3 separate regions of the Homo sapiens genome follow, and all the other regions are linked to region 1. The links come from fine-mapping of genetic effects on gene expression. A gene starts in region 1. Each other region holds a variant in brackets. All regions are shown on one strand. Distances are between the middles of the regions.

Region 1 (2,500 bases):
TGCTTTAAAGCTAATGGATGGGCATCATCTTTTAAAAAACAGGGGAGGGGGGAAAAAGGAGTTGCAAGGAAACCAAAGCCCAAAGCATCCTTCATGTCTACTTATATGTTCAGCGCTAGAATAGTTATCCACCATAATGTTCTTAAACCTGCTGATTACACGGGCTCCAGCTAGCCTCCTGAAAAACACATTCATACCAAATTAATATTAGAATTTTGCTTAATAAATTAAAAACTGTAACATAGGAAGGAAAATTTTTTTCTAATTATCAAGAAACTGTTTTCGGAGACATCAGATTTCATAAGAGAAACCAACCACTGTCAAGACTACCACAAGTCCCGTCCAATATGATTGCTTCACAGTGGCAGAGTGGAAGATTAAGAGAACAATATCTATTCACTGAAGCTATCAGCAAGACACACTCATACATTTTCTCAAAGAGGGTGAAAAATATATAGAAGACTGCCGACGAAATCATTCACGTTTTTTAAAAGCTGGACAACATTGTAAGACCCTGTGTCTAAAAATAATAATAATAATAAAGCCGGGTGTGGTGGCGCCCCATCTGTGGTCCCAGCTACTCGGGAGGCTGAGGCGGGAGGATTGCTTGAACCCAGGAGGTGGAGGCTGCAGTAAGCCACTTTCACAACACTGCACTCCGGGCTGGGTGACAGAGCAAGCCCCTGTCTCACCTAAAACCAAACAAACAAAAGTTGTTTAGGAACAGTTAAAGCTTTCTGAATTTCCTCCGACCACGTGTGCCAAAAGAGGAACCTTGAAAATCTGGAGTTACCTTCATATCTATCGCCTCTAGGGCGAGTCGCTAGCCCCTGGGACTTACTGAAGAGCAAAGGAGTGCCACAAAACTCGCCCAGCTCAGTCCCTCGACCTCCACGTTCCGGACGCGGAGTAACTAGCAACATCCACAGGTGTGGCTGGAATCGATCGCAAAGGGGAAAATAAGGAGGCCCAGGAGCTTAAGACAGAAGCTGCGCTGAGGCCCCGTGGCACCAGTGACCACGATGACGATCTACCTCGAAGAGAAAGTCGGGAATTCCTTAAAGATCAGCCCCAACCCACCCGGCCGGCTCACCAAAGCCAAGGAAGCACATCAGTAACAGCACCAAAAGCCGGTGCGCCAGGCGACTGGGGTCGCAGAGGGCCGGCAGGGCTCCAGGGGCGGCCGGGGCACCTCTGTCGGCCTCGTCAGGGCCGCCTGCCAGGAGCGCCCGCGCTTCCTCATCCTCCTCCTCCATTGCGCCCGCAGGAGACGGAGAGGGGAAAGTGGTGACAACTCCAAACCCAGGCAGGAAGCAGCGCCCGTGGAACACTGTCAAGACGGCGGTCACATGACTCCGGGAGCTCACGTGACGCCCCGGCAGGTCACGCAGGGCCACGCCCATGTGAGCGGCCGCGAGCGCTGGGAGGACGGACCCAGCGGTCGATGACAGGGCCTGGCGCGGTTCGCTTTTCCTGGGTGACTGTGTTCGTGGGGCTGAGGCCCTCGAGGTGCCCACTTCCAGCTTTCCACCAATTACTGCACTGTCTTTCCGTTTCCTGCCCCGCTGACGCGTACACCTATTTCAGACTCAGCGCAGCTCCGCGGGGAGAAAAGTGCGGGGCTCCCTCTCGGCTCCACACCAGACTCCGGAGTAGTTCGAACTGCGCTGGGGTCGCCAAGACGCGCGCTGCCCTTCTCCCAGCACTGCCCTCCCCAGCGTCTTTGACCACTCTTAATACCCACAAACTTGATCGGACAATTTCTGGTGTGTCCAGCCATGTGTCACGTACTGGGAATACAAAATAGAATGAGGCAAGCTCCCTGACCTCAAAGATTTCAGAGTTCAGTTGGAGAAATCGACAGAATCTGGTACTTTTAAAACTAAACATGATGAATGAATGTGGTGAGAACAGCGGCAGAAAATGGCACTGAATTCCATAGAAATATCTGGAAAGGTCATTTCAAAAGGGGAGAAAAGGTGCGTAGTTTAGCCAGCTTTCAGGGCAAGGGAGTGAGGGGCGCTGAAGCTCCTTGAAGTTGAAACCCAGGCTAGAATGAGTAAGAATGCGCCAGTCAGGGTGCTTGTTTGAGCGGGTTGGTTGCAGGGCGGGCAGTTACGAGGGATAATAAAGACAAAAGCGTGAAACAGAACTGGGTGTGTATGTGTTTGTGTTGAACGACAGAGAAGGAACTCGAGTAGAAACACTAAACCTGTTTCAAGAAGAGCCATGCAAGGATTTTGAGCACAGCAGCAGGACTGCAAGCTTTGTGTTTTAAAAAACATTCGGTCTGCCAGCACAGCACCATCGTCGCTTTCTGGGAGCCCTCAGGCTTTACTAACAGAATTTTGAGGGCGTCAAAGCTAGAGGCTGAAAACTGTGAGGATTATTAGGAAGATGCTGCAGTCGTAACGATTAGAGATGACGAGGGCCTGTTAGCAATAAAAAGCAGGAATGGCACAGAAGAAAATCAGTAATTATTTAGGAGGTAAAATGGGAA
Region 2 (2,851 bases), 67 kb after region 1:
TGAGAGCTCCCCTTCAGGTCAGGCTGAACCTACCTGTCATATAACTGTCTGAGATCCTTGCATGGCTATCCTTCTTCTAGCTCCTTACTGAATTCTGCTCGGAGCATTTCTTTTAGGAACAATCTTTGTTTCTGGGCCTGCTTCTAGGAAACCCAACGTAAGACACAATCTTCTTCCTCAGTAACAAAATCCTGAGTTTTATTTTGGCATATGGCCACCGTGAATAAAAACTACATTTCCCAGCTTCCTTTGCAACCAAGTTCTTGCCAATAAGATACAGGGCACAAGTGCCCTGTGAGACTTCTAGGAAATCCATAAAGGGAGTCCTGCTGATGGCTAGTGTCCATCGTGGACCCTGAGGGCAAGGGGTACATCCTCAGGATGTGGGAGCAGAGATCTGGAAAAGGCCTGGACCTCTAACAACCTCATGGATCTGCCAATACCAACCGCAGATTGTCTACCATCCCACCATTACCCCACAACTTCTTTTGAGAAATAAGTTCCTCTCCTGTTTAAGCCAATGTCATTCGGGTGTTTATTCCATGCAGTTAAATTTAATCCTAGTTTACAGACCAGACCATTGACTCTGAAAAACGACAGACACTCAGTTTGCCAGCCTCCCTTGCAGCTAGGCTTTGCCAGTGTAACCCAGATCTGGCTGAGGAGGTATAAAGGAAGGTCTTGGGGGGAAGAAAGGTGTAGGCAGGAGGTTCTGGAAAAGATATTTCTTCCTGATGCAAAAAACAAACAGGTGCACAATGTCCAGCTCTCTTTCCACTCTGGCAACCTATTCCCTGCTACCTGCCTTTGGCTGCAGCATGTGAAGATGTGCTGTCTGGAGCTGTGGCAGCCATTCTATAACCAGGAAACTACAAGTGCATGGACAAAAAGCCAACCAGCTGAGGATGGCTGTGCAGAAGGATGGAGAGAGCCTGGGTCTTTCAGAAACTCACTGAGATCTCCCACTCCAAACCAATAAATGGTCCACACTGTTAATCGGGTTTTCCATTACATACAGTTGAAAGCAATCTAACATACTCACAGGGAACAAAGCACTGAAGTAAAATCACCTGGAAGTGATCAATTCTCAAAAAGCCTGCTACTATAACCTCTTGGAGGGTGCTATAGTTTGGGTGTTTTTGTCCCCTCCAAAATTCATGTTGAAACTCAATTCCCAGTGCAAGAATGTTGGGAGGTGGGGCCTAGAGTGAGGTGTTTAGGTCATAAGAGTGGGTACTCTCTCACTCTTCCAGCATGTGAGGACACAGCGTTCCTCCCCTTCATAGGATGAAGCA[C/T]GCAAAGCCCCATTTTGGAAGCAGAGACAGAGCTAAGACCCCACCAGACACCAAGCCTGTTGGTGCCTGGATCTTGGACTTCCAACCTCCAGAACTGTGAGAAACAGATATCTGTTCTTTATAAATTACCCAGTCTCAGGTATTCTATTATTGCAGCACAAAACAAACTATGGGGAGATGACTGGGTTCTGGGAGGTGATTACCTGTGCTAGGCTTGCCTCTGAGGGCAAGAAACAGCAACTCCAGCTTCAGGGAAGTGAAATAATAAGAAATAAACTCCAGGATCCGCTGATTCCTGTGTTCAACAATGCCATCAGGAACCCAGGGCCCTCCCCTCTCTCTGCTCTGCCACTCTTGAAATGGGCTTCATTCTCAGGCAGCCAGCAAGACAGAGGCATGCTTCTGGGCAGCACAGCCAGACCTAACTGGGGCCTATCGAGGGCCTGCACTCTCCCCCTTGGCTTCTCCCTCCAGCTGGATTTTCTTGCTTTTCTTCAAACATGCCAGATAGGCTCCTGCCCTAGCCTCTGCACTTGCGTTCCCTCTGCCTACAGTGCTTTTGCATACATGTCCACTTGGCTCTGCCTCCTTCAGGTCCTCACCCAAATATTACCTCCCGAGAGAGGCCTGCCCTGACCACACCTTTTAAGATTAACCACCTCCCAACTCCCCATTTCTTTTTCTGGCTTAATTTTTCTCCCTGGCATGTAACTTCATCCAATATAGCACACATTCCCTTGGCCTCACTGAGTGTCCGGGCCCCACTTGCCTAGAAGGTGTGCTCCAGGAAGGCAGAGATGTTTAAGATTGTTCACCCTCATTCCCCCAGGGCCTGGCACAGGTGTTTCACAATTATCTGCAGAAGGAAGGAAAGACAGACAAGGGACAGACAACAGCCAGAGGAAGAAGTGCAGTAAGACAGGATCTTTCCAGAGATGGCACCACGCCCATCAACCCACAGGCTTTGCTCACCATGCAGAACTGGCACATGCCCACTCTCAACCACCCACTGGCAAAAAGAGATTTCCTTTAGCCCCACAATGGCACTGGGGTCCACGTTTGGTGCAGGGGTAGACCCCTGAACAAAATGCAGGATGGAGAAATGGATGTTGGGAGTGCCTAGCAGTACCAGTTCTCCTCTCTCAGCCCTGGTTCTCCAGGACTTTTTCTCTTGCCTACGGTTTAAAAACAATGGCTATCTTAGCCCTTCACTGCCACCTGTCTAAAAAGAGTTGCCGCCGGGTACCGTGGCTCACGCCTGTAATCCCAGCACTTTGGGAGGCCCAGGCGGGCGGCTCACGAGGTCAGGAGTTTGAGACCAGCCTGACCAACATGGTGAAACCCCGTCTTTACTAAAAATACAAAAATTAGCCGGGCATGGTGGCTGTAGTCCCAGCTACTCGGGAGGCTGAGGTAGAATTGCTTGAACCTGGGAGGCGGAGGTTGCAGTGAGCCAAGATCGTGCCACTGCACTCCAGCCTGGGAGACAGAGCAAGACATGGTCTCAAAAAAAAAAAAAAAAAAAAGAGTTGCCAACACTTGCTGCCTCCATTCCC
Region 3 (2,851 bases), 57 kb after region 1:
TTAAAGAGAGTTTAAGGTATGAGGTGTATTATGAAAACTTTCTATAGGTCTGCAATTAAATCTACAATTTTTAAACTCTAATCACAGCATCTTAGAGCTGTCATGAATGTTATAGCAAGAAATAATCTATTTGCACAAATAGATCTTGTGGCCTGGCGTGCGGGCTCACGTGTGGAATCCCAGCACTTTGGGAGGCTAAGGCAGATGGATTGCTTGTGCCAGGAGTTCAAGATCAGCCTGGGCAACATGGCGAAACCCCATCTCTACTAAAAACACAAAAATTAGCCAGGCATGGTGGCACATGCCTGTAGTCCCAGCTACTCAGAAGGCTGATGGGGAGGATCACCTGAGCCCAGGAGGTGAAGGGTGCAGTGAGCCAAGATTGCACCACTGCACTCCAGTCTGGGTGACAGAGCAAGACCCTATAAAAGAAAACAAAAAAAAAATTATTGAGCTTTTTCATACCAAGTATAGGGACAGGGATAATATGTATCAAAATTTTTGCTAATTACTAATTGCTATTAACAATTACCATTGTTACAGCCCCAGTTCTAATGTTAACATGATATCTGTTATGGGCTCAATTGTGTCCCCCCAAAATTCATACATATATTGAAGCCCTAACCCCCAGCACCTCAGAATATTACAGCATTTGGAAACAGACTCTTTAATGAGGTAATTCGTTAAAGTAAGGTCATTGGAATGGGCTGTAGTCCAACATGACTGGTGTCCTTATAAGGAGACAAGGACACAGGCACACACAGAGGGAAGATCATGTGAAGACACACAGAGAAGGGGAAGCCAAGGGAAGAGGTCTCAGAAGAAACCAGCCCTGCCTACACCATGACACTGGACTTCTAGCCTCCAGAATTGGGAGAAAATAAATGCTGTCTGATCTGCCCAGTCTGTGGTATTCAGTTATGGCAGCTCAGCAAACTAATACAATATATGAAAGACTCTGCTCATGATGAGGTTAGGTCTCGCCCAGCAGTCACTGTTGTGGTAAGCATTTGTGCTGTTCCACATACTTCCAGCTCTCCACCTCCTGGAGAACATGATGATATTGTACTTTCCCACCCCCTGAAGAAGTTAAGCATCGCCTACGACATGCTTTTGTCAATAAAAGGTGAGCAGAAGTAATATGTATCACTCCTGAACAGAAACTCTAAGAACCTAAGCATAATTCACCCTGTTCTCTTTTTCCTCAGTTGTAGCAACAAGAAATGTTCCAGAAGCAGCTGCTCCACCAGCCTGCCCTGTGGAATAAGAACACTGACAATGCTATGGTAAAACCCCCAGCCAAACCATAACGGACTTGTGATGAGAGCAACAAATAAACCTTTTTTATCTTAGGTCCTGAGATGTAGGCATTGTTTGTTATTGCAGCATATCCTAGAC[T/C]ACCCTGACTGCCACATCAGTTTACTTACAATTCAAAATAGGAGTCATCTCATTTACCAAATTCCAGACATTCATTTGTTTCATTTAGCTCAGAGCAATAAGCATATCAATTAAACTCTGATCTTTGGTGGTTTGGATTTTTTTTTAACTTAAAATATCTGGTAATAAGGCCAGGCATGATATCTGCATGATAGTAAGAAGGCACAAGTCTTCTTTCAGAAGGTGGGAAGACGTTAGTGAGATGTGTCCAAAGAAAGGACAACTTAGCAAGGTTCTCTGCACCGGGTAGGCACAGGTAAAAGAGAATAAAACTACAGTGTTTCAAACCGGCAGTTCCCTCTGTTTGCCATGTAATTCATCCCACACCCAGCACTTTACACAGAAGAGACTGAGCCAGTTTGAGTTGTTGAGCTGGGACTAGACCCCATGCCTTCTGACTCTCAGACCAGAGCTCTTTGCCCTGTACCATCCTTCTTAGTTCTTTAAGAATCAAGATAGAATTTCATTTTAGCCAACAATAATATCTCCTTATCCTAAAGCCTCATCATAATTCTGATATTTACCAGTGAAGAGAAAAACATGTTTACAGTGGCATTTGTTTCAAAAAAATAATCCAACCCAACTCACCCTGTGCACAGTAGGCTCTTTTCAAGGCTAGGTGTGCAGGGACTTTAGAGAACCCTCTAAGAGCAAATGCCCATTGCTGGGCTTCAAGGTTTTCCACCTTTTTCCTTTACTGCTAAGTAGCCACTGGCATGATTCCAGCCAGGTTCACTGCTGTTCTGTTTGGTCTTCCCTACAATTCATTCACTCGGCCCACACCTTCTGCCCAGACCAGTCTGCCCCTTGCTGCTCTCACAACTTGCTGACTCTTCTGAACGCCCACAAATCCAGCTTTTCTGCTTCTGGACTTGAAGATCCACCCACCGCACATTACATTCCATGGAACTAGGGGCAGGGTGGCTGAACAGAAGCCTGCACCAATCATCCTCCCTGCAGGAGCACCAAATTTTAACAACTAACCACACACACAAATCAGCACTGTCATAAGAACACTCCAAGGAATCAACCAACCTCTGTCTGTATGTATTCACGTATTCTAAGTCATCTAGGTGATTGTGTTGTCTATTTATTAGCCAGGTGATTTATCAGTACTTCTGTTTGCTCTCACTATTATATATATGCCCTGGTGTGCACCCTGTAGAAATAATGGTGAAGAGGGGAAAATAGAATGAGGGCTTTCTAACACACTGTCCTGTTATCTAGGCTGCCACATGTGGGAAAACGCCTTCCCCTGAGGTATGAAGAGTTGGTTTTGGTTTGCCTTGATAACATACTCTATGCAAATTTCACTGATGAACACCAGTGTCATAAACAGAATTGCATAGATCAATCACTCCAGAAAGTTCATGGCATACAAATATTAACAAGTGTTATGAATTTTCTTTGAAAT

The links. PIP is the estimated chance that this variant, and not a neighbour inherited with it, causes the effect. A credible set is the group of variants that fine-mapping cannot tell apart.
Region 2: its variant is the best candidate, but not a certain one, in a credible set for the expression of MFSD1 in visceral fat (GTEx, PIP 0.63).
Region 3: its variant is the best candidate, but not a certain one, in a credible set for the expression of MFSD1 in monocytes (Fairfax 2014, PIP 0.64).

The regions. Positions count from the first base shown.
Region 1 is chr3:158,800,909-158,803,408 of GRCh38, reverse strand. It overlaps MFSD1 (major facilitator superfamily domain containing 1), which reads right to left and starts at 1,355. Exons shown (of 16, transcript NM_022736.4): 1 at 1,094-1,355. The coding sequence starts at 1,256.
Region 2 is chr3:158,733,251-158,736,101 of GRCh38, reverse strand. LOC100287290 (a long non-coding RNA gene) reads right to left here. Exons shown (of 5, transcript NR_171782.1): 2 at 2,065-2,151. Among named protein-coding and RNA genes, the nearest start is that of RARRES1, 2.2 kb to the right of the region's middle. The variant C/T (reference allele first, on the strand shown) is at 1,296.
Region 3 is chr3:158,743,625-158,746,475 of GRCh38, reverse strand. The region is part of intron 4 of LOC100287290 (a long non-coding RNA gene); the gene reads right to left. Among named protein-coding and RNA genes, the nearest start is that of RARRES1, 13 kb to the right of the region's middle. The variant T/C (reference allele first, on the strand shown) is at 1,399.